3 separate regions of the Homo sapiens genome follow, and regions 1 and 2 are each linked to region 3. The links come from fine-mapping of genetic effects on gene expression. A gene starts in region 3. Each other region holds a variant in brackets. All regions are shown on one strand. Distances are between the middles of the regions.

What was found. PIP is the estimated chance that this variant, and not a neighbour inherited with it, causes the effect.
Region 1: its variant is the best candidate, but not a certain one, in a credible set for the expression of HELLS in whole blood (INTERVAL, PIP 0.87).
Region 2: its variant is the best candidate, but not a certain one, in a credible set for the expression of HELLS in whole blood (TOPMed, PIP 0.57).

What each region holds. Positions count from the first base shown.
Region 1 is chr10:94,571,129-94,573,893 of GRCh38, reverse strand. It overlaps HELLS (helicase, lymphoid specific), which reads right to left. Exons shown (of 22, transcript NM_018063.5): 7 at 2,465-2,506. Among named protein-coding and RNA genes, the nearest start is that of HELLS, 27 kb to the right of the region's middle. The variant G/A (reference allele first, on the strand shown) is at 1,379.
Region 2 is chr10:94,349,903-94,352,667 of GRCh38, reverse strand. It overlaps NOC3L (NOC3 like DNA replication regulator), which reads left to right. Exons shown (of 21, transcript NM_022451.11): 8 at 265-358; 9 at 2,380-2,555. Among named protein-coding and RNA genes, the nearest start is that of NOC3L, 12 kb to the left of the region's middle. The variant A/G (reference allele first, on the strand shown) is at 1,613.
Region 3 is chr10:94,544,408-94,547,172 of GRCh38, reverse strand. HELLS (helicase, lymphoid specific) reads right to left here and starts at 1,385. Exons shown (of 22, transcript NM_018063.5): 1 at 1,221-1,385; 2 at 675-796. The coding sequence starts at 1,251. RefSeq lists enhancers at 456-1,079, 1,080-1,704, 2,242-2,291, 1,705-2,329 and a silencer at 1,452-1,531.

The DNA.
Region 1 (2,765 bases), 27 kb before region 3:
AAAATGCAACTAACAAAATCTACTGAGTCCTATAATCATTAAGTATAGAAGACTAAGATCACACCTGGATTAAAAAACTGGAGACATCGCCATCCCTCTACAAATGAAAAGCTACTAAAAAAAAAAATAACAGGCTGCCACAGTGGCTAATCCTACAATCACAGCACTTTGGGAAGCTGAGGCAGGAGGATCACCTGAGTCCAGGTATCCAAGACAACCCTGGACAACATGGCGAAACCCTGTGTCTACTAAAAATACAAAAAATTAGCTGGGTGTGGTTGCACGCAACTGCCTGTATCCCAGCTACTCGGGAGGCTGAGGATCACTTAAACCCAGGAAGTCAAGGCTGCAGTGAGCCATGAACACAGCCACTGCACTCCAGCCTGGGTGACAGAAGACTCCATCTCAAAAAATAAAATAAAATAAAATAAAATAAAATATAAAAATCTGAGAATAACCCTTACAAATTAAAATCAGGCACATACTTTTGAAAAGATCATTAGAATTGTATCTCTCTTCCAAACTTCTAATATTGTGATACTCAATAATTTATTAAACTGTTACACAGAAAATACAGTACGCATAAATAAGACGGGCAAAAGATATTAACAGATACTTTACAAAAGAAAACATACAGGCCGGGCATGGTGGCTCACGCCTGTAATCCCAGCATTTTGGGAGGCCAAGGCAGGCAGATCATGAGGTCAAGTGATCAAAACCATCCTGGCCAAAATGGTGACACACTGTCTCTACTAAAAATACAAAAATTAGCTGAACATGGTGGCATGAGCCTGTTGTCCCAGCTACTTGGGAGGCTGAGGCAGGAGAATCGCTTGAACCTGGGAGGCAGAGTTTACAGTGAGCCGAGATCGTGCCATTGCACTCCAGCCTGGGCGACAGAGTGACACTCCATCTCAAAAAAGAAAAAAAAAGAAAGAAAACATAGTTATCAAAGAACATAAAAATATACTCTACTTCAGTAGTAATTAGGAAAATGCAAGTTAAAAACCACACAAGTTACCATTTCTCATCTAATAAAATGGCTGAAATTAAAAAGACTATCAAATGCTGACAATAATGTAAGCTGGAGTTTTCAAACATTGCTGGCGAGAGAATAAAATGATGTGTTTACTTTGGGGGGGAAAATCTGTACTTTCTTATGAACACACATTTGCCACGTAACACAACAATACCATTCCCAGGTACACAGGCAGAAAGTATGAAAACATGTCTACACATGGACTTGTGTGCAAATTATCATAGCAACCTTACTCATAAAAGTCACAAACTGCAAACAACCCAAATGCCCATCAATAAGGGGATGGATGAGAAAATTGTAACATTCATTCAACAGAATACTAGTCAATAAGAAGAAACC[G/A]GTTACTAATATGCTCAACAACATAAATGAGTATCACAGACATGTTGAGTGGAAAGGAAATAATAAGCCATCCTATAAAAGGTGTAAAAAGTGGCCTCCTCTGGGTTTGGGGGTGGAAAGACATAGAAGAGATCCCTTTACAATGGAAATGTTCTATACCTTGATTTGGATGGTGGTTACACAAGTGTATGCAAGTGTCGAAATTCATTAAAATACCATACTTAACAACTATTTCTTACTGACTGTAAGTTATAAAATGAAGCCAAAATCCCATAGTAAATTACAGAAGATTACATCTAGACTTTATCTTAAAAATCCAACTAAATGTTTATCTAACTAAATCTTTAAAAATCCAACTAAACTGCACCCATAAACCAGTCCTTAATAACTTAACAAAGAATAAAAACCAAGACACTTTTACAATATAAATTTTGGACAAAATTATATGACCAAATAGATTATCTCTCATTTTATAAACATAACATTAATTTCCCAAAGGCCTAAAAATCTTTAATATGTAAATTAACTACCTGAAGTTCATATCCATTCATGAATATTTTCATGTCATGATTATTTTGCTTCCCTAGGCAACCTTGTAATTTTAAGTACTTGAACAATAAAAAGTCAGATAACAAGGAACCTCTCTACATGAAATGGGCTAAGTGAAGAGGTGGCTCGGAAATCAAGCCTTCTCAAACAGAACTTTTAAGAAACTTAAAAAATCTTTAAGGTCTGAAGCAAGATTAAGGCATCCCTCACAGCTTCCATAAGATGATTCACGGTTTATATCCACATGGTTACGAGCACTTGTATCACTGCCAGATTCACAAGTTAAAAGCAACATTGCTAGACCCATAAATTAACATTTATACATCAAGAATCATGCAATAAAACAACTAACTAAAGTTGATACATAAAAAAGAAGAATGTTGGATATGGAAGAAGTGAATACATAGGTATTTTTTTTTAAAGCAAAGAAACAGGATAATAGTGAGAAGAACGTATACTGCTGATTAAAGAAAAAGGACTAGTAACTGAGGAGTAAATATGACTTCTAAACTTAATCTTACATTATAAATTTCTTACCTCATTCTCCTTTTTATTTTTTTTAGCCACAGACAAAATTTCCTAGTAGTTTGAGAAAACAAAAACAAATTAATAATGTATGAAGTTCATTTATTTATTTATTCAACAAGCATTTATTCTGTGCTCATTTTGCCAGGAAATGAGGATGAGATTCTCAAGATAAAACTAGTAGCCTTCAGGCAGAAATAAGCCTATAGACATTACTGGCTCATAATATTTCATAACATTCTAGGCTAATTTGGGAACACTTATACAATGGGATATTTCATCAAATACAGTGATTTTCCAGCTTTTCTTTCTT
Region 2 (2,765 bases), 190 kb after region 3:
GTGCTTTTAGTAGAGACGGGGTTTCCCCACGTTGGCCAGGCTGGTCTCAAACACCTGACCTCAGGTGATCTACCCGCCTCTGCCTCACAAAGTGCTGAGATTACAGGCATGAGCCACCACGCCTGGCCTAAACGACTGCCGCGTTTTTTGTTTTTTGTTTTTTTAAATAGTACTGGGTGTATACTAGACACACATATTTTATACTAATTTTGGGCTTTTAATGTTCTGATTTTAAAAAATGATTGACCTTTTTGGTCTTTTCAGACCCGAAAAGAAACCCAGAAGTTAAGAGAATTTGAAGAAGGCCTGGTTAGCCAATACAAGTTTTATTTGGAAAATCTGGAACAAATGGTTAAAGGTATATTAAACATATCTTCAAAGTTTGTAACATACTTAGCCTTGATCATGAAGGTGAATTCTGTACAGTGTTCTGTGTTGTGTAGTGAGAGGCAGGTATGGTCAGGAACAGAATCTAGAGTCAGACTTCCAGGGGTCAAATCCTGGCTCCACCACTTACTACCTATGTGATGGGAAAATTACATAGTCTTTCTGTGTCTCAGTTTTCCTGTCTAAAAAATGGAAATAATTATAGTACTTACCTTCCAGGATTATTGTAAGAAGTAACTGAGTTTGTAGATATGAGGTGCTTTAAACAGTGCCTAGCATGTACTATACACTATATTTTATCAATTATTAGTATTATTGCTGCAGTTTTTAGTAAGTAGTTGTATTTTTGTTGACTACAATGCATTTAACAAAATACATTGTTATGAACAGTTGGGATTTATTCTGCTGTTTTTTATTTGGAGGCATGGTAGTCAGGGAAGAAGGATAACTAGAGGCCAGGCGTGGTGGGTCACACCTGTAACCCCAGTGCTTTTGGAGGCCGAGGCAAGAGGATTGCTCGAAGCTAGGAGTTTGAGACCAGCCTGGGGAATGTAGTGAGACTCCTGTCTCTAAAAAAAAAAAAAAAAAATTAGGCATGATGGCCCATGCCTATAGAGCCCCAGCTACTGGAGATCTGAGCTGAGAGGATCACTTGAGTCCAGAAGTTTGAGCCTGCGGTGAGCTATGATTATGCCACTGCACTGTAGTCTGGGCGATAGAGTGAGACCCTGTCTCAAAAGAAATGAATAAATAAATAGAAGGATAACTAGAAATGGATATTTGCATGTCTTGAAAATGGATTTATGAGTCAATTATTTGGGATGATAAACTCTTAAACTCTTCAGAAAAGGAAGGACATAGAAAAAATAGGGGTAGGAATAGGGAAGACAGTTGTTGCCTAGGCCAGGTGTTTTCATTTGGCCTAATTGGCTCATTTACCCAGCTTATTTACTAAGATCACCCATTGCTGTCAGCTGGAACAGGACCACTGAATCCTGTTGGCCTAATAAGGGCATAAAGGTAGTGGAGTATAGTGGGGTGGGGGTGGGTAGTATGGATATTGCTTCTATGTTCTGGTGTTCCAGCTGGCACCCTATTAGTGTTTGTTCTTCCAGTGAGAGGGCCTGGGAGTTTTTCTTTTGTTTTTGAATTTCTGAACTGTTTGGAAAGCTCCTGGGATCTTTGTGCAACCATCTCTGTCTGATAGAACTATAACATGAGCCAC[A/G]TATGTCATTTAAAAAAAATGCAGACACACTAAAAAGCAATGAAATTAATTTTAATAGTATATTATATATATTCAGATTATCATTTCAACATGTAATAAATTTTAAAAATTAATGTCTTACATTCTCAGTTTTTTTTAGTACTAAGTTCAAATCTGGTTTGTATTTTATACTTAGAGTGTATTTTATACTTAGAGTATATCTTAATTTGTATTAGCTGCATTTCAAATGCTCAATTGACTCCTATATGTGGCAGTTAGTAGCCTCCATATTGGACCTTTCCTGAGCAGATCGAACCATTATGAAGTCTTTTTTTCTTCTTCTTTTTTTTTTTTTTTTTTGAGACGATGTCTTGCTCTGTCGCCAGGCTGGAATGCAGTGGTGCAGTCACAGCTCACTGCAACCTCTGCCTCCCAGGTTCAAGTGATTCCCCTGCCTCAGCCTCCTGAATAGCTGGGACTACAGGCGTGTGCCACCCACCATGCCTGGCTAATTTTTTTTTTTTTATGTTAGTAGAGATGGGGTTTCACCATGTTGGTCAAGATGGTCTCAATCTCCTGAGCTCGTGATCTGCCCACCTTGGCCTCCCAAAGTGCTGGGATTACAGGTGTGAGCCACTGTGCCCAGCATATGAAGTCTTTTTTTAAGGGGTGTGGGAATGTGTGTGTGTGTGTTTATGTGTGTTAAAATGTACATTGATTGTAAAAGAAAGCCAATTAGTTTAACTTTTGACCAATGAGTAAAGTAACTACAGTTATCTTTTGATTAGATTGGAAGCAGAGGAAGCTGAAGAAAAGTAATGTAGTTTCCTTAAAGGCATACAAAGGACTGGCAGAAGTCGCTGTGAAGAGCTTGTGTGAGCTGTTGGTGGCACTACCTCATTTTAACTTTCACAACAACATCATCGTATTGATTGTCCCTCTCATGAATGACATGTCAAAATTGGTGAGTTGCTGTAAATGGTTATTGCTGTCCTCCTTAGAAAATTATACACCATGTGGGCCAGGCACGGTGGCTCACACCTGTAATCCCAGCACTTTGGGAGGCCGAGGCAGGCAGATCACGAGGTCAGGAGATCGAGACCACCCCAGCTAACATGGTGAAACCCCATCTCTACTAAAAATACAAAAAATTAGCAGGGCGTGGTGGCAGGCG
Region 3 (2,765 bases):
GTGGGGCTTTAGAATAAACAAGAATTTTTCAGGTTAAAAACTGTTTTTAGTAACTTACAAAATGCTCTCTACAAGAAAACTACAGCAACTTGTCATTGAAAAAGTACGGCACATTTTTAGCTAAAGAATCTTATGTAGCAATACACAGGCCATGAAACCAAAAGAAAAACAAACAGCAAGTTGATCACTTAGGTGGAAAACAGCACTACAGTATAAGGAAATCATTAGACTTGGATTCCAGCCCAGCCTTTGATTGATGCTAACTTCTCCTGCCCTCAGTCTAGTACATTACTTCTGCAGGTTTTAGCGATTCCTGTTTGCCATGAGACATACATTTAAGGTAATTTTTAAAGGAAATAAGGATGACAAACGAAAAAACTCACTATGGACTTTGAAAGACTTTTCATGGCTAAACAAGCAATCTGAAATGCTCATTTAAAAGTGATGGGACTACCAAGACTACATCTCATAGAAACACACCATTCAAAGCACTTGCGAAAGGATTCTCAAAGGCAATATCTGTAAACATACAAAAAAGACAAGTAATAAAGCTGTTTTCTTTCAGTTATTAAAAAGCCCACTAAATAGGAAAGCAAAGAACACAAACCACACCTCCGGGTTAAAGCCGAGGTTACCACAGGCTTTCACGACGACGAACCTGATGCCTAAATTACCTTTTCCAGCATCTTCCGCTCTCTCTCTAGTCCAGCAGCTTCAAGCTGTTCTTCCTCTTCTAGCATGGCCGGGGTAATCACAGCAGTGTCCAGTTGTTCAACCATTGCTGGAGCCTCCGAGCCTGACGGGGGAGAAAGCTTTCAAATTGCAGTTTTAAAAAAATTACCAACTACTCAACTCCAACAAGAAACAGCCTTTCTCCCACCCGAGATGCACTGGAGCAAAAGCTGAAGACCGAGGGGACGCCAGCATCACCTCTCAGAAGACACCGTAAGTCTTCACAATGTCTACAAGTCGCCTGGACCACAGTTTACAACTCGGGATGCTCGGGAAAATGCAGTTGCCTATGTGAAATCTTCACCGGCATGCTAATACGTGCGATTCCGGGGTGTCCTCCACTCACCGTTGCAGTTTCCCAACCCTCCTTTCCTCCTCAGTCCCTGCCCGGGGTCGGCTCCCTCCCCGAAACTCCGCCGCAGCCTCCATGCTTGCCCACCTCAGCCCCGCAGGCTGCCACCCGCGCCCAAAAGGTTTTCCTCACTCACCGCCGCTGCCCGCGGGCCGTTCCGCTGGCATGCCTGGACACTCACCCGGGAACCGGGTCCCCTCCTCTCAGAGCCTGCAATGCCGCGAGCTAACTCCTCACAACCGCTGCCGGCCCAGCCTTCTAGCCAAATCCCCCGCCAGGGAAAAAAGCGCGCTTCTCCTTCGCGGGAAAATCCTGTCATCTCGCGATACCTTACATTCCCCACCCGCCCTCCCGCCCCGCTGCGCGAGATTTGGCGCAGCTTGCGGTTTTCGTCAGGACTGACCTGTGGCAACCGTAAACCTTTACCTGGACCTCTCTCAGGAGGAAACTGGGTCCCGCTGCCGAACTCAGCCTGTAACTATCCTGTGAGATTGGGCGAGGTGGCCGATCGTGGAGAACCCAGTTTCCTCACATATCTGGTTCCGAACTACGCAATTAAAGTTTGATAGTGCTGTTAATACTTTGCAAGGCGCCTTCCAACGCTGGCTGCTGTGATTGAGCACCCGCTAGCCCATGATCCTGTAGGTAGAGACGTCTGCGTATCTGCACGAGGATGTCAGAAACAGAAACATTTTTATAGGGCCAGCCTCGCCGCACCCGCAGCGCGCGGCTCACATCTTAAGTGAAAAATCCCCCAAAATGACAAAGAGGAGGGCTTTTTTGTGGGTGGGACGGGAGAGAGAAGGAACAGGAAATTAAGATTATGACTGGGTTAAAGAAAGCTGTTTAGGATAAGGGCAAGCTGAAAGAAGTGATGGACCAAGCGGAGTGGCCAGCAGAAGGAAGATTCAGGAAACCAAACAGGATTCATTCATTCGAGTGGGCAGTGAAGGAAGGAGCGGAGCTTTTCTTGTCCCTGGTTTTCACTTCAGCTTTCAATTCCTCCTTTTCTTGTTTGCATTCCTTTTCAACTATTTCCTTTGTCTCCCTCTCCAGGGCTCCCTTTCCCACCTCCAATTTCTTAAGATGTATGGCATTAAATATACCTACCATGTAACCACCCGTTTCCTTCATTTTGACTCCCACAACTTGTATGATTGTGTCTATACAAAATTTAAGAGTTTACAAGCCGGGTGCGGTGACTCACGCCTGTAATCCCAGCACTTTCGGAGCCCAAGGCGGGTGGATCACGAGGTCAGGAGTTCAAGACCAGCCTGGCCAAGATGGTGAAACCCTGTCTCTACTAAAAATACAAAACAGCCGGGCACGGTGGCAGGCGCCTGTAGTCCCAGCTACTCGGGAGGCTGAGGCAGGAGAATCGCCTGAACCTGGGCGGCAGAGGTTGCAGTGAGCAGAGATCGCGCCATTGCACTCCAGCCTGGGCAACAGGGAGAGACTCCGTCTCATAAAAAATAGAAACGAAACCTAGTCTCTATATTTTATTTTATTAAGATAGGGTCTCACTCTGTCGTCCAGGCAGGAGTGCAATGGCACGATCTCTGCTCACTGCAATCTCCACCTCCTGGGCTCAGTTGATCCTCCCACCTCAGCCTAGCAAGTAGCTGAGACTACAGGTGCGTGCCACCACGCCCGGACATTTTAGTGTCGGACATTAGCCCAT